Linked DNA regions of Homo sapiens: region 1 is linked to region 2. The links come from fine-mapping of genetic effects on gene expression. A gene starts in region 2. The other region holds a variant in brackets. All regions are shown on one strand. Distances are between the middles of the regions. Region 1 overlaps CARM1 (coactivator associated arginine methyltransferase 1). Region 2 holds the start of YIPF2 (Yip1 domain family member 2).

What was found.
Region 1: its variant is fine-mapped to the expression of YIPF2 in whole blood (TOPMed, PIP 0.95).

The regions. Positions count from the first base shown.
Region 1 is chr19:10,900,590-10,915,925 of GRCh38, reverse strand. CARM1 (coactivator associated arginine methyltransferase 1) reads right to left here. Exons shown (of 16, transcript NM_199141.2): 2 at 10,850-10,975; 3 at 7,781-7,887; 4 at 6,719-6,823; 5 at 3,632-3,742; 6 at 1,872-2,049. Among named protein-coding and RNA genes, the nearest start is that of YIPF2, 20 kb to the left of the region's middle. RefSeq lists a silencer at 10,713-10,900. The variant C/T (reference allele first, on the strand shown) is at 8,199.
Region 2 is chr19:10,923,635-10,931,888 of GRCh38, reverse strand. It overlaps YIPF2 (Yip1 domain family member 2), which reads left to right and starts at 3,250. Exons shown (of 10, transcript NM_001321439.2): 1 at 3,250-3,378; 2 at 3,449-3,509; 3 at 3,930-4,090; 4 at 4,173-4,259; 5 at 6,116-6,203; 6 at 7,697-7,813; 7 at 7,890-8,056; 8 at 8,212-8,254. The coding sequence starts at 3,479. TIMM29 (translocase of inner mitochondrial membrane 29) reads right to left here and starts at 3,078. Exons shown (of 2, transcript NM_138358.4): 1 at 2,973-3,078; 2 at 1,635-2,875. The coding sequence starts at 3,066. The coding sequence ends at 2,187. RefSeq lists silencers at 2,633-2,682, 2,723-3,002 and enhancers at 3,216-3,916, 3,917-4,619.

The sequences.
Region 1 (15,336 bases), 20 kb after region 2:
TCCACACCACAGGGACTGCCTAGGTTCTGGCACAGGCACCCAGCCGGCAGGATGGGCCACTTGGCCTGCCTGGTCTGGGCACACAGACTGAGGGAAGGGCAGGGCCTCCCTCTGTGACTCAAGGGTAGACGCATGAGTCAGGGCCAGTGGCAGGGAGGATCAGGGCCCCGCAGCCCCGCCTGCCCCAAGGAGCACCTGGCCTCCAGATGTGGGCCCCCCAGCCTTGCAAGCTGGGGGAGGAGATCCTGAGGTATCAGTGGGACTCTGCCTCCTCCTTACGCCACCAGGCTGTACCCGAGGCGAGAGCTGCAGGGCTGCAGCTGCTGGAACGGGGAGGGAGATGCACATGCTGCGGCTTCTGCCCTGGGGGACCTGGGGGCACCATGGGAAGTGACCCAGCCTGGAAGGAACCTCTGGCTCCTGCTGACCAGAAGACATGTGACTGGGAGAGGGGAGGGCTGCCTTTAACCCCTGGAAGAGCTTCCTGAGCTGGACAGGAGTCCTCCTTGCACAGGCCTGGCCTCCCCCCTCCCTGCAAGCTGGCTGCTGGGACGTCGGGGGCACATGCAGCTGCCCACAGAGCCTGACTGCCATCTGGCTTCATGTCCCATCGGGAGGGGCCCTCTCTGCTGGGGCTGTCCCCACCCCCATCCCCACCATCAGGGCAGAAGGGGAGGAGAGTGGGGCCCACAGCCCCTGGAGCAGCCTTGCTTCCCATACTCACACCCAAGACATGAGACACAGCTGTGGGACGCCACCTCCCACCTCCAGGAGCACAGCCAGCCAGGACCCTAGGGCCTGGATCCAGGGCGGGCCAGAGATGAGAGTGGAAGCTTCCCCCCTGCCCCTGCCTGCACAAGCCCCACCAGCCTGCTGCTGCCCACGCTCCATCCCATGGCTGCTACCCTGGCTGGGGACCTGTACCCTGCCACACGCACACACAGCTGCTTGCCTGTACAGAAATGCTCAGACGCTCACATACCTAGCATGAGAAGAGCCACAGGCACATGCCTCAGGCGTCAGGGCTGCACAGACCCCAAGACAGATGGGCAAATAGAAACAGTCACCCAGGCCAGGCACAGTGGCTCATGCCTATAATCCCAACACTTTGGGAGGCTGAGGCGGGTAGATCACCTGAGGTCAGGAGTTCGTGACCAGCCTGACCAACACGGTGAAACCCCATCTCTACTAAAAATACAAAACTTAGCTGGGCGTGGTGGTGCACACCTGTAATCCCAGCTACTCAGGAGGCTGAAGCACAAAAATTGCTTGAACTGGGGAGGTGCAGGTTGCAGTGAGCCGAGATCGCACCACTGCACTCCAGCCTTGGCAACAAGAGTGAAACTCTGTCTCAAAAAAAGAAACAGTCACCCAGTGACCAGAGGCCATACCCAGAGGCACGGATGGGAAGTGACAGATGGGCTTGCCAGACAGCTACCTCACCTCCTCACACACGTACACTCGCACCCACACCCCTGCATTTGCACACATGCTCGCCCACCCCACCTCCTGGACTGTGAGGAGAGCAGGGCTTGTTGGGGAACTGCTGACCACAGAACCTGTCCCAATCCCCACTCCCAGCCAGAGGCTGTCCCGCAGGAGCAGGACATGGGACGGCAGAGGTGCCAGGAGATCCTGTGTACCCTGTCTGGGCGAGTGGGCAGCTGGGTGTCTGGCCGTGTTTGGGGCCCAGGGCTCCAAAAGCCACAGCTGGCTGGAGTGGGGTTGGGGTGGGAGCGGGGGAAAAGCCCAGGCTTCCCTACACCCCGGGCCACCGACAGTAAGCAGGGAGCTGAAGCACTGATGGCCTGGCTCAGCGGCAGCCAGGGCCTCCACCGAGGGGCCTGGCCTGTGTACCCCCCAGTGCTCACCGCTGGGCTTCAGGTACTTCTTGGCGTGGAGGTAGCTCTCCAGCATGCGCTCGTTGAAGAGCATGTAGCCCATGGGCTCCGAGATGATGATGTCCACCTGCTCGGGGAGTGACACCTCCTCCACCTTGCCCGGGATGACCACGATGCGGTCCGTCAGGTTGTTACTCTTCACCAAGACCTGCAGGCGGGCAGGGCCATGTGGGCTTCCCTGCGTCTTCCTGCCATGGGGCCCTCCCTAGACCTGCTCTCAAGGGACAGCCTCCATCCACACATGGGCATTGGGTGCCCCTCTGCCTGCTTCGCTGGCGCCCCAACCATGGCTGCGATTGGCCATAGCCTGTTAAGAGCTCACTGTGGGCCGGGCACGGTGCCTCATGCCTGTAATCCCAGCACTTTGGGAGGCCGAGGCAGGCGGACTGCTTGACCTCATAAGTTGGGAGACTAGCCTGACCAACATGGAGAAACCCTGTCTCTACTAAAAATACCAAAAAAAAAAAACTATTTTTTTTTTCTTTGAGACAGATTCTCACTCTGTTGCCCAGGCTGGAGGTGGTAGTGGCGCCATCTCGGCTCACTGCAACCTCTGCCTCCCGGGTTCTAGCGATTCTCCCACCTCAGCCTCCCGAGTAGCTGGGACTACAGGCACCCACCACCACGCCTGGCTAATGGGGTTTTGCCACGTTGGTCAGGCTGGTCTCGAACTCTTGACCTCAGGTGATCCGCCCACCTAAGCCTCCCAAAGTGCTGGGATTACAGGTGTGAGCCACCATGCCTGGCCTAAAAATACAAAAATTAGCCAGTTGCAGTGGTGGATCCCAGCTATTCAGGAGCCTGAGACAGGAGAATCACTTGAACCCGGGAGGTGGAGGTTGCAATGAGCCAGGATCGCACCACTGCACTCAAGCCTGAGCAACAGAGTGAGACCCCCCCCAAAAAAAAAGAGAGTTCACTGTGACCCCGGCCCTGCCTCAGGGCCGTCCCCTGCTGCGGCCTCCTAGGTCCCCCACCCTGCGTCGACAACTGCTGGTGGCTGCAAAGAGGGGGACGAGCAGACATCACAACAGCCACCAAAGCTAAAGCTGGATGCACCCCCAACCCAGCGATTCCAGGGCTAGGGTGTGTCCTACAGACACAACCGCATGTGGGAGAGGGGCTCAGGACAGCAGCGTTGGCCACGTGAAGACCTGGAAGGAGTCTGAGTGTCGCTGCGGACACAATGCAGCTAAAGCAACAGCGGCACGGCTGGGCACAGGGGTGCTCTGCGGCGGCAAGACAGAACAAAGATGGCCCCTCCACGACCCCGGCGACCCCAGATCCATGGGAGAGGCAGAGCAGGGAATGGAGGGTGCAGCCTCCACTGGTGCGAGAGGACGCTCACGGAATAGCTCTGCTCAGACTTTGTGGCCGTAGCTCCTCTCTCATGATGGGGCTGGGGGTGGGAGCTGGGGTGGGGAAGGAGAGCACGCTGTCTGCTCTTTTTTAGCTTTTATGTTTTGAACTTTGTGAATGAAGGTTTCAGTGCAAAAAAAAAAAAAAGAAAACAGGGAAATGACATGTGGCCCTGACTACCGGCCATGAGAGAAAATCATCTCAGGCCCTGAAGCCCCTCCCTGAAATGACTGTCTTGGGGACAATAAAGAGACCAAAGCACAGAAGTAATGTCCCCAGGCCCCTGGGGGTTCCCAAGCTTCTCTAGGCTGGGGCCGGCATGGCACTCATGGGCGAGGACGAGGCTGGGTGGGCACCAGCGGGCCACTGACCTCAGCGTGCTGGGCCATGGTGCTGGCCTCCACCGCGTAGATTTTCCGTGCTCCAGCTTGGGCGGCAAAAAACGACAGGATCCCAGAGCCACAGCCAACATCAAGAACGATCTGAGGGAGGAGTGGGAGGTGAGAGCGAGACATAGGAGGCGACGGTGATGGGGAGGTGACAGTGATCATAAGGGATGTGCACATCATGAGGCGTCTGTCTTCACTCTCAATGTTTGCCCTTTATGGGCTCTTGGTCAAAATGAAGCGAGAACTCAAGATGAGCCATGGGCCAGTCCTCCGGGAGGAGAAGCCCTGGGGAAGCTCCCGCTCGGCCCCAACCCTGTGGCCTGCAGGCCTCCGGATCGTCTGGGGTGAGTGGCACGGGCCTCCCCTGGAAGCTCACTGGCAGTTGAAAAGCATTTTTCCGGGGCCTCCGCAGTTCTAGCATGGAGGAAAGGGGCCCGAGTTGTTGGTGGCAGTGTCTCCCAGCTCCATGCTGACTCATGCCTGGAGAAGCAGCCCGTCTTGGCTGGGGCAGGTGAGCCGCCCAAGCCCTGGGGCCGGCTGGGCTCCCCGCAGGGCTACTGGCCCGTGGTGGTCACTCATGGCAGAGTCCAGGCCAGGGTCTGGGAGAACACACCACCTGTTCTGGATTTGTGGGATTGCTTCCACACGAGCAGACCAAGGACAGACATTCCTGGTGGTGACAGGCATGAGCTTTTGAAGGACAAATGCTCTGGGCATGGTGAGTGCCTGCAGGGGAAGCTGGGGTCAGGTGGGAAGGCCTCAGGGTACTGATCAGAGCTCCAGATGAACCAGGAAATGGATCTCCATCCTTGGGGAGCAGGAAGGGACTTCACCAACGGAGGACGTCCTTCCCAGACCTCAGTGGCCAGGAGGAGGCTCGGGATGGCCCTGCCAGGGCAGACACTCTTGTGTCAAGACAACTCCTCCCCAGGGCCCAAGGCCTACCATCCTCTGGGACGGTAAGCGATGCTAGGGGGGCGTGACCCAGGCGCTGGATGAGGCAGATCCATGCAGATCCACGTGGAGAGATCCCCAAAATACTTGGAGGAAAAAAACAGGCTCCCATTTGATTCAAAAGAGAAAACAGGCCAGGTGCGGCGGCTCACACCTGTAATCTCAGCACTTTGGGAGGCTGAGGCGGATGAACTGCTTGAGGCCAGAAGTTTGAGACCAGCCTGGGCAACATGGCAGAACCCCATCTCTACTAAAAATACAAAAATTAGCCGGGCATGGTGGCACATGACTGTAATCCCAGCTACTTGGCCGGCTGAGGCACAAAAATCGCTTGAACCCAGGAGGCAGAGGCTGCAGTGAGCTGAGATTGTGCCACTGCATTCCAGCCTGGGTGACAGAGTGAGAATCTGTCTCAAAAAACCCCCCAAAAACAGAAAGAGAAAACAAAAATTCTGAGTAAGCCGGGTGCAGTGGCTCATGCCTGTAATCCAAGCACTTTGGGAGGCTGAGGTGGGTGGATCATGAGGTCAAGAGATCTAGACCATCCTGGCCAACATGGTGAAACCCTGTCTCTACCAAAAATACAAAAATCTGCTGGGCTTGGTGGTGTGCGCCTGTAGTCCCAGCTACTCAGGAGGCTGAGGCAGGAGAATTGCTTGAACCCGGGAGGCGGAGGTTGCAGTGAGCCGAGATTGTGTCACTGCACTCCAGCCTGGTAACAAAGCAAGACTCCATCTCATAAAAAAAAAAGTAAAAATAAAAAAATAAAAAAGGTAGACACCAAAAACTCTGGCAAATGGGATGAGAAGGGAATACATTATACATTTCTACTTTTTTTTTTTAAGACGGAGTCTTGCTCTCTTGCCCAGGCTGGAGTGCAGTGGCACAATCTCGGCTCACTGCAACCTCCGCCTCCCAGGTTCAAGTGATTCTCCTGCCTCAGCCTCCTGAGTAGCTGGGACTACAGGTGCCTGCCACCACGCCCAGCTAATTTTTGTATTTTATTTTAGTAGAAATGGGCTTTTGCCATGTTGGCCAGGGTGGTCTCGAACTGCTAACCTCAAGTGATCCACCTGCCTCAGCCTCCCAAAGTGCTGGGATTACAGGTGTGAGCCACTGTGCCTGGCCGATTTCTACTTTTGAATACAGACGTTCTGCTCTGTTCTCTCTCTCTTTAATCATGAGTGCACATTATTTGGTGATATCAAAAAGCTTATTTATTTTGTTTTTGAGGCAGGGTCTCGCACTTTGGCTCAGCCTGGAGAGCAGTACCCCAATCACAGCTCACCGCAGTTTCAACTTCCTGGGCTCAAATGATCCCCCTGCCTTGGCCTCCCAAAGTGCTGGGATTACAGACAGGTGTGAGCTACTCTGCCCAGCTCAATAAAATAATTGTAAAATATACGCTGATGTCTGTATGGGGAAAAATCTTGAAGAAGAGACCTCATACTGAGGGGTAGCGGCTATCTTGGAGGGAACTGATAGAGGCCTCTCAAGCCTATAATGTACATGCTGTGTTGAGTTTATATATCAAATGCATTTGTTTTTCTTGCTTTTTGTTTTTTTTGTTTGTTTGTTTGTTTTTTGAGATGGAGTCTCACTCTGTTGCCCAGGCTGCAGTGCAGTGGCGCGATCTCAGCTCACTGCAAGCTCTGCCTCCTGCGTTCATGCCATTCACCTGCCTCAGCCTCCTGAGTAGCTGGGACTACAGGCGCCCACCACCACGCCCAACTAATTTTTTTGTATTTTTTAGTAGAGACGGGGTTTCATCGTGTTAGCCAGGATGGTCTCGATCTCCTGACCTTGTGACCCGCCCGCCTGGGCGTCCCAAAGTGCTGGGATTACAGGCGTGAGCCACCGCGCCTGGCCTTGTTTATTTGTTTTTTTTTAAGAGACAAGAGTCTCGCTCTGTCGCCCAGGCTGGAGTGCAGTGGCAGAATCATAGCTTACTGCAGCCTCAAACTCATGGACTGAAGCGATCCTCCTGCCTCAGCCTCTGCAGTAACTGAGATAAATGCATTTCTAATCTGAGAAAATTAAAGATAAAATCAATGAGCAAAGAAAAAAAAAACCGAGACAGAAGCAGAGAGGTGGGCACATGCGCGGGCCACTCACCTTGTCCTTGAAGTCGGTGTGGTTTTGCAGGATGGCGCGCTGGTAGGTGCCTGTCCGCACGTAGTCCTGCATCATGTTCTGCTGCTGGGACAGGTAGCCATAAAACTGGAACAGAGACATACCGATGGCACGGGGCACATGGTGGCACGAGGCAGCCAAGGCCCTGGCCAGCCCTGTGATAGAGCAAGGGGCCATCTAGGGCACAAACCTCCCTCGGGAGGTCGTGCACCCTCTGCCTGGGCCCCACTAGCAGCTCCAGGAGAGGGAGCAGGAAGCCGGAGGGCAGCCCCCAGGAGGACACCGCCACTATCACTGCAGCCGATGGCAACAGCTGATGCCGCCTGGACCTGGAAGCCGCCCAGGAGAACTCAAGATTTGCCACAGGCAGGGTTCTGGCATCGGGGGCCACCTGCCTCATCTTGAGGGCCCCAAAGAAGAAGAGAAGCAGATCGAACAGAGCCCTAGAACTCAGAGCGCCAGGCAGGTGAGGTGTGGTGTCTCTCTGTAAGACAACGGGCGATCGGGAGGCAGCGTGGCACCTGGGCAGGGGCACAGACTTTGGCATCAGGCAGACCTGGCTTCCCATCTTGGCTCTGTTGCATATAGCTGTGTGACTTGGAGCAAGTCACTTAACCTCTCTGAGCCTCAGTTTTCTCATCTGTAAAATGGGGACAATAATAGCACTTACCTCCTAGCGTTGTTGGGAGGGTCCAAGTGCTTCTGTGCATGTGACAGCGCTTAGACCAGGGCCTGGCATGCAGGGAGCGCTCAGGGCATTGTAACTGCTCTACCGTTATTCACAACGCCTGTGGCCCTGAGCTCCACCTGTGCTCAGATCCTTCCAGCAACCCTCTCAGGCAGGCACCTGCATCTCCGCTTCACAGATGAGGAAACTGAGGCCCAGCCAGCAGAGGAAACCTGCCCAAGGCTACATGGCCAGTAAGGGACAGAGCCAGGACGGGAACTTGGGTGGGCCTTCCCTGTGCTGTGTGGCCTCCTGCGGGTGAGTGGCAGGGGGGCTGCCGGGGGGAGGCGGCCTGGCTGAGGGGGAGTACAACCCACCTGGAAGTACTGCACGGCAGAAGACTCCTCCGTCCGCTCGCTGAACACAGACCGCTCCAGGGTGTGGCCCCGGCAGGTTTTCAGGATGTTGTAGAAGGAACAGAAATCTGGAACAGGGAAGCCAAGTCACCGGGGGGCGGTCAGCAACCCAGCATGTGGCCATCTGGGAGGGAAGGTTCTGGATGGCCGTATGTCCTGACGTTTCTCCCTTGAACATACAGGGCTGGTGATTTCTCTTCCCCGAAAAACAATTTTCAAAGTTCAAAGAAAAGATGAAGGGCAGCCATGCCTGCACTGTGGTGACTGACATGAGAAGAGGGCAGGTAGCCTGCATGTGGGGCTGCTGTCTGGTGGGAGTGGGCCTGGGGATTCCTCACCAAAGGGCAGCTTGGTGAAGCTCTCTCAAGCACACGCCCAC[C/T]GGCCCAGGAGTCAAAGCTCTGGCAAATAAGCCCAAGTCCACCCAGAAGCTCAGGGCAGCATCTGTGTGGGGGCAGCAGACACTGCAATGTCCAGTAAGAGGGGACTGGACAAATGCCAGGGGCACAGAAAAGCACAGTAGAGGCCAGGTGCAGTGGCTCATGCCTGTAATCCCAGCACTTTGGGAGGCTGAGGTGGGAGGCTGAGGTGGGCAGATCAGCTGTCAGGAGTTCCAGACCAGCCTGAGCAACATAACAAGACCCTGCCTCGTTAAAAAACAAAAACAAAAACATGAAATAAAAAATTAAGAAAAGCATGGCAGAGAATCACCAATCACCACCCTTCCCAGAGATGCAATGGTATGTGGCCCTTTAAAGCAGGCTCTATCTATTTGGCTGGGGACAGTGGTTCTCAACTGTAATCCCAGCACATTGGGAGGCTGAGGCGGGTGGACTGCTTGAGCCCAGTTTAAGAGGCCAGCCTGGGCAACATAGCAAGACCCTGTCTCTACAAGAAATAATAAGCCGGGCACGGTGGCTTATGCCTGTAATCCTAGCACTTTGGGAGGCTGAGGCGAGTGGATCACTTGAGGTCAGGAGTTCGAGACCAGCCTGGCCAACATGGTGAAACCCTGTCTCTATTAAAAATACAGAAATTAGCCAGGGGTGGTGGCGGGCACCTGTAATCCCAGCTACTCAGGAGGCTGAGGTGGGAGAATCACTTGAACCCGGGAGGTGGAGGTTGCAGTGAGCCAAGATTGTGTGACTGCACTCCAGCCTGGGCAACAGAGTGAGACTCTGTCTCAAAATAAAATAAAATAAAATAAAATAAAATAAAATAAAATAAAATAAAATAAAATAAAATAAAGCTATATTTATTAACATAGAATAATAGCCACTAAATTATATCAAGTAAAAAACAAAACAATATTTAAAAGACAATCTCTTTAAAAATTAAAAGACACGGTCAGGCATGGTTGCTCACGCATGTAATCCTAGCACTTTGGGAGGCGGAGGCAGGCGGATTACCTGAGGTCAGGAGTTCAAGACCAGCCTGGCCAACATGGTGAAACCCCCGTCTCTACTAAAAATACAAAAAATTATCTGGGTACAGTGGCACGTGCCTGTAATCCCGGCTACTCAGGGCGCTGAGGCAGGAGAATCGCTTGAACCTGGGAGATGGAGGTTGCGGTGAGCCGAGATCGCGCCACTGCACTCCAGCACTCCAGCCTGGGTGACAGAGCGAGACTCCGTCTCAAAAACAATGAAAAGACACAGTTCGGGATGAGCAAGTTCTGGAGATGGGCGGTAGTGACAGTTGCACAACAATGTTAATGTGCTGCTTGCTACCAACCTACACACTTCAAAAGGGTTAAAATGATCACATTTTGTTATGTAGATTTTAGCACAACTTTTAAAAACTGACAGAACTGAAATAAAAAATATTAAAATACAAATAGTCTTAAGAGTGGGAACGGCCGGGTGCAGTGGCTCATGCCTGTAATCCCAGCACGTTGGGAGGCTGAGGCGGGTGGATCACTTGAGGCCAGGAGTTTGAGACCAGCCTGGGCAATATGAAAAACTCCATGTCTACTATATTAAAAACACAAAAATTAGCCAGGCACGGTGGCACACACGTGTAGTCCCAGCTACGCGGGAGGCTGAGGCATAAGAATCGCCTTGAACCCGGGAGGTGGAGGTTGCAGTGAGCTAAGATAGCACCACTGAACTCCAGCCTGGGCAACAGAGTGACACTCTTTCTCAAAAAAAAAAAAAAAAAAAAAAAAGGGGCCGGGCACGGTGGCTCACATCTGTAATCCCAGCACTTTGGGAGGCTGAGGCAGGTGGCTCACTTGAGGCCAGGAGTTCAAGACCAGCCTGGGCAACACAGTGAAAACCCATCTCTACAAAAAATTAGCCAGGCATGGCAGCTTCACACAGCTGGCCCCGAGGGCTCAGGCTGCCCAAGGTACATCTGGGTCACTGCACAGCTACCTTGAGACAAGGGGGAGGCCGGCAGTGGCTCATGGGCACGCAGCCTCTCCACCTCCAGCTGTCCTCGCACCAGCACCTGTGTCAACCACTGGACTCACTTCAGGTCTCTGGTAACCAAGCCTGCGGTGGGACCTTCAGACCATCTCCAGCCCTGGGCATTCCTGGACACCTCTCTGCTACCCTGGCTGCATCCACCTGGGGTTCTCCCACCCCTAGTCAGGAATCTTGTGTCCACCTGTGCCCCCAAGGTGGGTTGGTTAAGCCCTTCTGGTGGCTTCTCTGCGCCCTGAGCAAACTCTTCCTGCCTCTAGGACCTCGCCTCACTCCATCCACAGCTGGCCCAGTCACAGCTGGCCCAGGGCTGGCCACTGCCAGAAAGACTGGTCCCAGGTGGTCAGGATGGGCCTCTTGGAGGTGGGGACATAGAAGCCAAGCCCCAAAAGACCCGGAGGAGCCGGTGAGGGAGGGTCTGGGATCCAGGGTCTGCCCAGGCCAGAGTGTATTCTGGGCATACCTGCATGTGGGAATGTGGTTTTGAGGGCAGTGGAGCCTTCTTAAGGATGCACGGGCCACCCCTCAGCCAGGCTCTACGCCCCTGCCCACCAGGGCTCTGGGCGCTTTGGGCTGGTGTCACCGGAATGGAAGGAGGGCCACGTACCGTTGGGTGTGGCGAACTGGATGAGGACGCTGTTGCAGCCCAGGGTGATGATGAAGGACTGCTTGCCCACACGGCTGCACTCTGTCTCTCGGGACACTGAGCACTTAAAGACACACACATCTTCATCTACGAGAGAAGACAGGCTGGCGTGAGCGGTGCAGCCCTGTCAGCTGCCTTCTTTTGAGCCTGGGTCCCTGTCGCCCTCCTGCTGCCTCCCCTTGGTGCCCCCAGATTCTTCCAGAGTGCCACAAAACCACCCTGGCAGCATTGCCGGGTGCCCTGACTGCCCAGCCCACATGGAAGACAAGGGAGCGACTGATCAGACAGCAGGAACACAGCCTGTGTCCTCAGGATGATCAGGGCTGAGACGGGCATGGTGAAGGCTGAGGTGGGCAGACAGGGCCACAAGGCATGGTGCTGGCCCACAGGAACTCAGAGCTGGAGCTGCCTCTGCCCTGCTCGGCTGAGCCCTTCTGTTCTTGGATGGGCGCAGAGCAGTGACTGCATGTGGCCAGTGGAGTCAGACCGCTGGGTTCACACCCCATCCATGCCATTTGTTCACTGTGACACAGGCATGTCCCTCAGCCTCTCTGGAACTGGGGTTCTCACCATCAGATGGGGCTAATGGCGGGGCAGTGGTCTAGTGAATTAGGACACTGTCTCCCTGTACCCATCATGATAGCTGTTACCAGTCATTCATTCCACAAACCTGCAGCCACTCCACTCCAGCCAAATGGTGAAACTTAGCGATGCCAGGAACGGGCCAGCCCAATCAGGCACTGTGCCCCTGCCTGCCATACTGCAGTGGGACAGGTGCATCATCTGTAGTATTCTTGGCAAAAATGTTTGCCCTAGTCTCATCTTCAAGGGACAACAGAAAAGGACAAGTTGTGGGGCAGGCTACAGGACAACCAGCCTGGTCTCCTTGAACAGGCCAATGTCAGGAAAGACCAAAACGGTGGGAGCTATTCCAGAGTGCAGGAGACAAGAAAGAGGGGAGTGCCCAATGCAATGCAAAGTGGGACCCTGGGCTGGAGCCAAACGAAAAATGTTTTTAAAAGTTATACAGGACAACTGGGGAGGCTGGGCCCACACCTCTAATCCCAGCACTTTGGGAGGCCAAGGCAGGAGGATCACTTGAACCCAGGAGCTGGAGATCAGCCTGGGCAGCATAGCAAGACCCCATCTCTACAAAAAAATTTAAAAATTAGGCAGGCATGGTGGCATGCGCCTGTTGTCTTAGGGACTCAGGAGGCTGAGGCTACAGTGAGTCATGACTGTGCCACTGCATTCCAGCCTGGGTGACAGAGCAAGACCTTGTCTCAAAAAAATAAATAAAGGACAACTGGGGAGCTGGACAGAGTGGCTCACACCTGTGGTCCTAGCTACTTGGGAGGCTGAGGTGGGAGGATCGCTTGAGCCCAGGAGGTTGAGGCTGTAGTGAGGTATGATGGTGCCACTGCACTCTAGTCTAGGCAACAGACGTGAGATCCTATTAAAAAAAAAAAAAAAGACAACTAGGGAAATGTGAGTGTGGACTACATATTCCATAATTTTAAGTTATTTGGATGTGACAATGGTATTGTGGTTTTGTAGAGAAATGCATATTTTCTTAGAAAACATATGCGGAAGTATTTATGGCAAATTCCCATGATGTCAGTAGCTTGCTTTTGAATAGCCCATCATAACAACAACAACATGAGTGCAAATATGGCAAAGTGTTCTCAATCACCCTGAATAGCCAAAACAGTCTTGAAAAAGAATGAAGTTGGAGGATTCCCATGTCTCAATTTCAAATTTTACTACGAAGGTACAGTAATGAAAACAGTGTAGTGGTACTGGCAAAAGAAAGGAGACACAGATCAATGGAACAGAATCAGAGTCCAGAAATAAACCCTTATACTTATCCTCAATTGATTTTTGATAAGGATGCCAAGAACATTCAATGGGGAAAGAATAGTGTCTTCAACAAACACTGTTGAGAAAACTGGATAACCACAGAGAAAAGAATGAAGTTAAACCCCTACCTCACACCATATACAAACAAAACAGAACTCAAATGGAGCAATGACCTAAATATAAGAGCTAAAACAAGAAAACTCTTAGGAGAACTATTTGCAAATCATCTATTGTTAAGTATTTAGTGTCCAGAATATATAAAAAACTATTTTAGGGTCAGGCATGGTGGCTGACACCTGTAATCCCAGTACTTTGGGAGTCAGGCAGATTACTAGAACCCAGGAGTTTGAGACCAGCCTGGGCAACATGGTGAAATCCCGTCTCTACTAAAAATATAAAAATATTAGTCGGTGTAGTGGCATGCGCCTGTAGTCCCAATTACTTGGGAGGCTGAGGTGGGAGAATCACCTGAGCCCAGGAAGTTGACACTGCAGTGAGCAGAGATGGCAACGCTGCACTCTAGCCTGGGTGACAAGAATAAGAGCATGTCTCAAAAAAAAAAAAAAAAAGTCTGGGCACAGTGGCTCACGCCTGTAATCCCAGCACTTTGGGAGGGCAAGATGGGTGGATCACGAGGTCAGGAGATCAAGACCATGCTGGCTAACACAGTGAAACCCTGTGTCTACTAAAAATACAACAAAACAAAACAAAACAAAATTAGCTGGGCATAGTGGCAAGTGCCTATAGTCCCAGCTACTCAGGAGGCTGAGGCAGGAGAATGGTGTGAACCCGGGAGGTGGAGCTTGCAGTGAGCCAAGATCACACCACTGTACTCCAGCCTGGGCAACAGAGTAAGACTCCGTCTCAAAAAAAAAAAAAAAAAAAAAGAAACAACAATTATTTTGTATCTATTTTTATTATATTTATTTTTTGAGATGGAGTCTCACTCCATCACCCAGCCTGGAATGCAGTGGCACAATTTTGGCTTGCTGTGACCTCTGCCTCCCAGATTCTAGGGATTCTCCTGCCTCAGCCTCCCGAGTAGCTGGGGGACTACAGGTGTGCACCACCACGTCCAGCTTATTTTTGTAGTTTTCGTAGAGATGGAGTTTCACCATGTTGGTCAGGCTGGTCTTGAGCTCCTGAGCTCAAGCGCTCTGTCTGCCTCGGCGTCCCAAAGTGCTGGGATTACAGAGGTGAGCCACTGTGCCCGGCCTATATATTTTCTTGAGACAGATTCTTGATCTGTTGCCCAGGCTGGAGTGCAGCAGCACTATCTTGGCTCACTGCAACCTCTGCCTCCTGAGTAGCTGCGTTCAAGCGATTCTTATGCCTCAGCCTCCTGAGTAGCTGGGATTACAGACATGCATCATCACACCCAGTAATTTCTGTATTTTTGGTAGAGACGGGGTTTTGTCATGTTGGCCAGGCTGGTTTTGAAGTCCTAGCCTCGTGTGATCTGTCCGCCTCGGCATCTCAAAGTGCTGGGATTACAGGCATGAGCCACTGGGCTGGGCCAAGAACTTTTTTAACTCAACAACAAAGAGATAGCCAGGGCCAGGCACAGGCTCATGCCTGTAATCCCAGCACTTTGGGAGGCCAAGATGGGAGGATAACTTGAGGCCAGGAGTTCAAGGTCAGCCTGGGCAACATAGTAAGACCCCATCTCTATCGCTACAAAAAAATAAACAAAATTAGCCGGGCATGGTGGTGCATGCCTGAGATCCCAGCTACTCGGGAGGCTGAGGTGGAAGGATTGCTTGAGCCCGGGAGCTCAAGGTTGCAGTTAGCTATGACTGCCTGTGAACAGCCACTGCACTCCAGCCTGGGCAACATAGCAAGACTCCACCTCTTTAAAAAAACAAAAACAAAAACAAACAAACAAACAAAAAGCTGGCCAAGTGCAGTGGCTCATGCCTGTAATCCCAGCACTTTGGGAGGCCGAGGCAGGCAGATCACCTGAGGTCAGGAGTTCAAGACCAGCCTGGTCAACATGGCAAAATGCCGTCTCTACTAAAAACACAAAAATTAGCCAGACATGATGGTGGGTGCCTGTAGTCCCAGCTACTCAGGAAGCTGAGACAGGGAGAATTGCTTGAATCAGGGAGGTGGAGGTTGCAGTGAGCTGAGATAGCGCCACTGCACTTTAGCTTGGGCAACAGAGTGAGACTCCGCTTCAGAAAAAAAAAAAAAAAGTCCGGGTGCAGTGGCTCACACCTGTAATCCCAGCACTTTGGGGGGCCGAGGCGGGTGGATCACAAGGTCAGGAGATCGAGACCATCCTGGCTAACACGGTGAAACCCCGTCTCTACTAAAAATACAAAAAATTAGCCGGGTGTGGTGACGGGTGCCTGTAGTCCCAGCTACTCGGGAGGCTGAGGCAGGAGAATGGCAGGAACCTGGGAGGCGGAGCTTGCGGTGAGCCGAGATCACGCCACTGCACCCCAGCCTGGGCGACAGAGCCAGACTCATCTCAAAAAAATAAAAATAAAAACAAAACAAAGCAAAAAAAACCAACAGACACTCGTATGCAAGCATTCACAGCAGTACTTATTCACGACAGACACAAGATAGAAATACAACCCAAA
Region 2 (8,254 bases):
GGGAGGCTGAGGCAGGCGGATCACCTGAGGTCAGGAGTTTGAGGCCAGCCTGACCAACATGATGAAATCTCATCTCTACTAAAAAATACAAAAATTAGCCGGGCGTGGTGGCATGCGCCTGTAATCCCAGCTACTTGGGAGGCTGAGACAGGAGAAACGCTTGAACCCAGGAGGCGGTGGTTGGGGCGAGTGCCACTGCACTCCAGCCTGGGCAACAAGAGCGAAACTCTGTCTCAAAAAAAAACTTAAAAAAATCAAAACAAAAATGTTACTTATTTATTTATTTTTTTGAGCTGGAGTCTCACTATGTTGCCCAGGCTGGAGTGCAGTGGTGCAATCTCTGCTTGCTGCAAGCTCCACCTCCCGGGTTCACGCTATTCTCCTGCCTCAGCCTCCTGAGTAGCTGGGACTACAGATGCCTGCCACCACGCCCAGCTATTTTTTTTTTTTTTTTTTTTTTGAGACGGAGTCTTGTTCTGTCGCCCAGGCTGGAGTGCAGTGGCGCAATCTCGGCTCACTGCAAGCTCCGCCTCCCAGGTTCATGCCATTCTCCTGCCTCAGCCTCCTGAGTAGCTGGGACTATAGGTGCCCGCCACCACGCCCCGGTAATTTTTTGTATTTTTAGTAGAGACGGGGTTTCACCATGTTAGCCAGGATGGTCTCGATCTCCTGACCTCGTGATCCACCTGACTGGGCCTCCCAAAGTGCTGGGATTACAGGCGTGAGCCACCGCGCCCGGCCAATTTTTTTGAATTTTTAGTAGAGATGGGGTTTCACCGTGTTAGCTAGGATGGTCTCCATCTCCTGACGTCGTGATCCACCTGCCTCGGCCTCCCAAAGTGCTGGGATTACAGGCTTGAGCCACCGGGCCCATCCACTTATTTTACTTTTTGAGACAGTCTCACTCTGTTGTCCAAGATGGAGTGCAGTGGCACGATCGTGGCTCACTGCAGCGTTGAACTCCCAGGCTCAGGTGATCCTCCCATCTCAGCCTTCCTGAATAGCTGGGACTACAGACATGGTCCAACATGTCTGGCTAATTTTTCTATGTATACATATTTTCAATTCTCATTCAACACCTTTGGTAAATTTTTGTACTTTTTGTAGAGACGGGGTTTTGCCATATTGCCCAGGCTGGTGTTGAACTCCTAAGCTCAAATGATTTGCCTGCTTTACCCTTCCAAATATTTTAGTTTTTGAGAAAGCTCTCACTATTTTACCTAAACTGGTCTTGAACTCCTGATCTCAAGCAATCCTCCTACCTCAGCCTTCCAAAGAGCTGGGAATGGCAAAAATGTTACTTATCAAAATGAAAGGCCAGGTGTGGTGGTTCACTCCTATAATCCCAGCACTTTGGAAATGCGAGGCAGGTGGATCACCTGAGGTCAGGAGTTCAAGACCAGCCTGGCCAATATGGTGAAACCCCATCTCTATTAAAAATACAACAATTTGCCAGGCATGTTGGCACAGGCCTGTAATCCCAGCTACTGAGGAGGCTGAGGCAGGAGAATCACTTGAACCTGGGAGGCAGAGGTTGCAGTGAGCCGAGATTGCACCACTGCACTCCAGCAGGCAAAACAGAGCAAGACCCTGTCTCAAAAAAAAAAAAAAAAAAAACGAGAGAGAATAGGTCATAGAATAAAAACATTTCAGCTCAAATTTTATTTAGTTAATTACTATTATTATTCTTTTTTGTAGCATCGGAGTCTTGCTATGTCACTCTAGCTGGCCTCAAACTCCTGGCCTCAAGCGATTCTCTTGCCTCAGTTTGCAAACTGCTGGGATTACAGACATCACCATGCCAGGCCACAACCCAAACTTGAAAAAGAAAATCTAAGTGGCCTTAGAAGAGTTTGCAAGTCAGCTGACCAATGTGGTACCTCCTTAAGGAGGGCCTCTGAGGCCCGATGAAAAAGGCTTATATAAAAGGCTCATGACCAGCTCTGCCAGTGATGAACATGTGTCAAGTCGTTCTGCTGTCCCCAACTCCCGGACCCAGGTGGCTCTGAATTAGCTTCAGCTAATAAAGAACAAAGACGGGGGGCAGAAAGGCTCCCCAAACTTGTGCAAATCCAGTGAGAAAACACTTTGCACATCATCTGTCTCAGCTGTTCTGCAGGTGAGGCACACTCAGAACTGCACCACCCCAGGCAAGCAGTTTGCCAGGACTCGGGGGCCTCAGGGTTTCATCTCGGGGCCTCCGCCTGCACCAGCGAGTGGGCCTGGCTCAGGGCGAGCCTGTCCTTCTTCTCCTTCTGCAAGACCTGCTCCTCCCACAGCGCCTGGTCCACCTGATCGTCGGTGAGCACGACAGGCTTGTACTTCTCATCGAAGAGCCGCTCGTTGGTCTCGGAATGCAGCTGCTGGGGCCCGACCACCCGCAAATGCGCCGGCAGGTGCAGGAATTCGTCGTCGTTGATGTCGCAGTCGCGCATCCAGGCCCCCAGCACCCACCAGCGACCCACGAAGCCCACGTCCAGGACCCGGCCGGGGAAGTCGGTCCAGCGGGGCTGCAGGTAGCGGCAACGCGCCTGGTAGAGGCTGGCCTGGGCGTCGAAGGGCGCCTCGTACACCAGCGAGCAGAGCCCCAGGTTGACGTAGCGCAGGCGGCCACGGCCCCGCAGCCAGAGCAGCCTCTGCACGAAGGCTTCGGACTCGCGGTTGCGGGTGGCCGGCGCCAGCAGCAGGAGGGTCCCCGACGCCTCCAGCAGCGCCTCCTCGAAGGCACCCTCGCTGGGCGCCAGCGTGAAGCAGGCCGCCGCGCCGCCCAGCAGACCCACATACACAGCGGCGCGCCCCGGCCGGGCCCTAGCCTCCGCCGAAGCGTCCCTGCAGGCCTCGGCGTAGTCCCGGAGCAGCGCGCGGGCCCAGGACCCTGAGGGGAGAGGAGCGCGGTAAGAGTGATCCGGCCGCGGCGGCCACCCACCCTGTCGCGGCGGCCACCCACCCTGCCGCCTTCCGCCGCTACTCACCCAGCCGCGCCCACACTCCCGGCTTCGCCACTACCGCGTCGCCCGCCTCTGCGCGGCGCCGGGACCAAAATCTCCTCAGAGCCGCCGCGGCCATCCTCTTCCGTCTTGGGGGTCCTTGCTCCGGGAAGAAACTCCTGATACCCGACGTTAAGAGCCCGGGAGTCTCTTCTGCGCAAGCGCCAACTTTACCGGAAGTGGCTTCCCAACGGGAGAGGATAGAAAGAGGACAGGCGCCGGATGTTGCTGTCAGGTCTGAGTCGGTTGGAGTCTGACGGGTAGGCGAGACGCGCAGGCGCAGAGAGCCCCAGCCACGCCGGCCCAGGTGGCCTCAGGTGAGGGGGGGCGGAGCGCACCTGTGGGGACGGGACGACGAGTTCAAGCCTCCGTGGGTGCAGTTGGTCGCCAGGTAGGGCTGGGGGCCGAGGGACCGGCTCGGGGGCGGGGGGGAAGTGTGCCTGACCGGTCTCTGTCCTCAGCGAGGGATGCGGAGACGCCCCTGAACGACCATGGCATCGGCCGACGAGCTGACCTTCCATGGTGAGTGCGGCCCCGACGTGGCCGGATCTCCCACTCCCGCCCCGGGCCAGAACCTCCCCCCGATACGGCTTCCAATTTCTCTACCCCGAAGCCTAGGCGGCTGTGAACCCTGACCCAGGAGTGAGACCCATCTCTGACTCGAACCCCGCCCCCGCCCTGAACTCAGACCTCAAACCCGAGCCTCTCGTCCCCAGACCCTGACCCCATCCCAGCGTCAACCCTAAGTTGCAGTTCCACTTTAGGAGGAAGGGAACAGATGTCCTCCGGATGCCTCCAAACTGAGGAAGTTGGGCCCCACCTTGGGGGAGATCAATGGCTCAGCAGAGCCTCCGCCCCCAGATGAGCATCGGTTTAGCTTGGGCCCAGTCGAGTTCTTTCCACCCCTCAAACGTGCGTGTGTCCCATATACCTCCTCCACAGAATTCGAGGAGGCCACTAATCTTCTGGCTGACACCCCAGATGCAGCCACCACCAGCAGAAGCGATCAGCTGACCCCACAAGGGCACGTGGCTGTGGCCGTGGGCTCAGGTGGCAGCTATGGAGCCGAGGATGAGGTGGAGGAGGAGAGTGACAAGGCCGCGGTGAGTCCCTGTGTCCTGCCTCCTTGCAGCCCCCAGCTGACCCAGGCTCTCCGGGCAGGCACTGAATGCCCGCAATGTGCAGCTCCTGCAGGAGCAGCAGCAGCAGCAGCAGCCGGGATTCTGGACCTTCAGCTACTATCAGAGCTTCTTTGACGTGGACACCTCACAGGTCAGGCTGGGGAGGCAGGTGGGATGGGGCTCAGAGTTATGCTCAGGGTTCAGCCACTCTTCCCCTGGGCAGGGTGCTGGTGATGGTGGGTGCTGGTGAACGAACTGTGGTGCTCTCAAAGGGTTATGGTGGGACTGGTTATGGATCGGGACTATGGGAACACAGGGGACACACACAATCTGGTGGGTTAGAGAAAGGCCTCCTGGGGGAGGTGAGGAATTGGCTGAGACCTAAAGGAGACAGAAGGCTTCCCTGGGGAATAGGGTAGGGAAGCAGGAGTATATGTTCCAGGCACAGGGAACAGCATATGCAGAAGACCAAAGATGGACTGGGCGCAGTGGCTCCTGCCTGTAATCCCAGCACTTAAGGGGGCCGAGGTGGGCAGATAACCTGAGGAGTTCAAGACCAGCCTGGCTAACATGGGGAAACCCCGTCTCTACCAAAAATACAAAAACTGCCGGGTGCGGGGTGGCTCATGCCTGTAATCCCAGCACTTTGAGAGGCCTGGGTGGGTGGATCACCTGAGGTCAGGAGTTTGAGACCAGCCTGGCCAAACATGGTGAAACCCCGTCTCTACTAAAAATACAACAAAATTAGCCGGGCTTTGTGGTGGGCGCCTGTAATCCCAGCTACTCTGGAGGCTGAGGCAGGAGAATCGCTTGAATCCGCCAGGCGGAGGTTGCAGTGAGCCAAGATCGTGCCAGTGCACTCCAGCCTGGGCAAAAAGAATGAGACTCTGTCTCAAAAATAAAATAAGATAAATAAAATAAAATTAAATAAAAAATAAAATAAAATAGAAAAATTAGCCAAGTGCAGTGGTCGGCGCCTGTAATCCTAGCACTTTGGGATGCCGAGGCGGTGGATCACTTGAGGTCAGGAGTTGGAGACCAGCCTGGCCAACGCGGTGAAACCCCATCTCTACTAAAAATACAAAAATTAGCCAGGCATGGTGGCACACACCTGTAGTCCCAGCTACTCAGGAGTCTGAGGCTCGAGAATCACTTGAACCTGGGAGGCGGAGGTGGTAGTGAGCCAAGATCGTGCCACTGCACTCCAGCCTGAACAGAGTGAGACTCTGTCTCAAAAAGAAAAAGGGGGTGCTGAGGCCGGGTGCGGTGGCTCACGCCTGTAATCCCAGCACTTTGGGAGGCCAAGGTGGGAGGATCATGAGGTCAGGAGATCGAGACCATCCTGGCTAACACGGTGAAACCCCATCTCTACTAAAAATACAAAAAATTAGCCGGGGGTGGTGGTGGGCGCCTGTAGTCCCTGCTCTTTGGGAGGCTGAGGCAGGAGAATGGTGTGAACCCAGGAGGCGGAGCTTGCAGTGAGCCGAGATGGCACCACTGCACTCCAGCCTGGGTGACAGAGCGAGACTCCGTCTCAAAACAAAAAAAAAAAGAGGGAAAAAAAAGAGGGGGCTGGGAACGGTGGCTCACGCCTGTAATCCCAGTACTTTGGGAGGCCGAGGTGGGTGGATTACCTGAGGTCAGGAGTTCGAGACCAGCCTGGCCAACATGGTGAAATCCCGTCTCTATTAAAAATACAACTATTAGCCAGGCGTGGTGGCACACGCCTGTAATCCCAGCTACTCGGGTGGCTGAGGTAGGAGAATTGCTTGAGCTCGGGAGGCAGAGGTTGCAGTGAGCCGAGATCATGCCACTACTCCATCCAGCCTGGCCGACAGAGCAAGACTCTGTCTCAAAAAAAAAAAAAAAAAAAAAGAGAGGGAAAGGCTGAGTTCTTTCAGGTGGGGCATGGAAAGAGAAGGGTGGAGGTCAGCAGGGAAGGAGCCTCTCAGGACAAGGGAGAAGCTCCTGGCAGACTTCCATCCTTGACCTTGGCCTTGCCCCCAGGTCCTGGACCGGATCAAAGGCTCACTGCTGCCCCGGCCTGGCCACAACTTTGTGCGGCACCATCTGCGGAATCGGCCGGATCTGTATGGTGAGTGAGGTTGTGCATTTGGTTCCTTGATGGATCACTCAACAAGTGTGGCCTGAGTTGCAGATGCCAGTGTATAGCTGCGGACAAATCAGTCACTCAGACAGTGTGACTTACCTGCTGTTCAGGGAGACAGAGACATGAAGGACTGCAGAGGGTGGCGGGTAGAGAGCAGCAGAGCAGACAGGAGGAGTGGCCCTGCAGTTCTGCAGGGTGCAGCAGGGCAGGCCTCCCTGAGGAGGGTGAGGGAATGAGCCTTGTTGGCAACAGGAGGGGTGGGGGAGACCTAGGAAAAGAGGCTTCCAGAAACGACGTAAGCTTCATGGCAGGAACTTGCATGAACTGCAGGGCGGCATTACCACTGGAGCGAGTGAGCTGCAGGGAGGTCACAGGCGAGGGGACAGATCACACAAGCCTCCCATGCTGTGGCAAGAAGAGATCTTTTTTTTTTTTTTTTGAGACAGAGTCTCACTCTGTCACCCAGGCTGGAGTGCAGTGATGTGATCTCAGCTCACTGCAATCTTCCCCTCCCGCATTCAAGCGATTCTCCTGCTTCAGCCTCCTGAGTGGCTGGGATTACAGGCACGTGCCACCATGCCCGGCTGATTTTTATATTTTTATTAGGGACGGAGTTTCACCGTGTTAGCCAGGCTGGTCTCAAACTCCTGACCTCAGGTGATCCACCCGCCTCGGCCTCCTAAGTGCTGGAATTACAGGTGTGAGTCACTGTTATCTGGCCGAGAATGGATCTTTAAGTGTTTTCGGGGTCCCTCTCGCCATCATGAGTGGCGAGGGCGGAAGCCAGGAGGCTGGGGTGGAGGCGGCCACATGGTGGGGACTGTGGATGTGGAGAGTGGCACTGGATTCTGGAACGTGCTGGGGAAGTAGAAGAGACTGGCTTTGTGGCTAGATAGGTGGGGGTGGGGGGAGTGGGAGGTTAGGAGCGGAGGCAGGCTCTAGGGATTTCTGCCTGGACTAACGGGATGGATAGAGTTGCCACGTATCCACGGGACCAGCTTGGCAGTGAGGGCAGAGGGCAAGGGTGTGGATGAAGCCGGAGATGCCCACCCGGGAGCTTGAACTGGAGCCTGCAGTGCTCAGGGCAGAGCCCTGGGCTCTAGAGGAGGCATAAGGCCCTGGGCTTGAAGGAGGTCATACTATGGGTGAACGCAGACATGGAAGGGGCCAAGAACTGGGCCTGGCTGCTCCCCATGGCTGAAGGGGTCAGAGAGTCAAAGAGGAGGTGACAGGGGTTGAGGAATTGGCACCAATGAGGTGAGACACAGGCCAAGGGTGTGCAGTCCTGAGTGTTTCGGGGAGGGGGATGAACTGACAGCCAGCACTGGGCTCAGCCACCAGGAGGCCCCCGGTGTCCTGGTGAGTCAGGCAAGGTGCTTAGGAAGAGGCTGGGGTCTCAGCACAGCTCAGTCAGGATACATGTCTGCTTGTCCTGGGAGTGCAGGGCCCGGGACCCTGACTGTGCCCCCTACCCCCAGGCCCCTTCTGGATCTGTGCCACGTTGGCCTTTGTCCTGGCCGTCACTGGCAACCTGACGCTGGTGCTGGCCCAGAGGAGGGACCCCTCCATCCACTACAGCCCCCAGTTCCACAAGGGTAAGCAGACGGGCAGGCCCAATGCCTGGCAGGGCCCTGGGGTACAGGGGGTGACTGCTCACCTTGCCCCCCCCAGTGACCGTGGCAGGCATCAGCATCTACTGCTATGCGTGGCTGGTGCCCCTGGCCCTGTGGGGCTTCCTGCGGTGGCGCAAGGGTGTCCAGGAGCGCATGGGGCCCTACACCTTCCTGGAGACTGTGTGCATCTACGGCTACTCCCTCTTTGTCTTCATCCCCATGGTGGTGAGTGTGGCCTGGCGCGGAGTGGGTGGTGGCTGTGTGGGGACACTGGCATGGTCACCTGCCGCCTCATTCCCATGGTGGTGAGGGTGGCCTGGTGCAGAGTGGGTGGTGGCTGGGGGGACTGGCATGGTCACCTGCCGCCGTGTTGCTCCCAGGTCCTGTGGCTCATCCCTGTGCCTTGGCTGCAGTGGCTCTTTG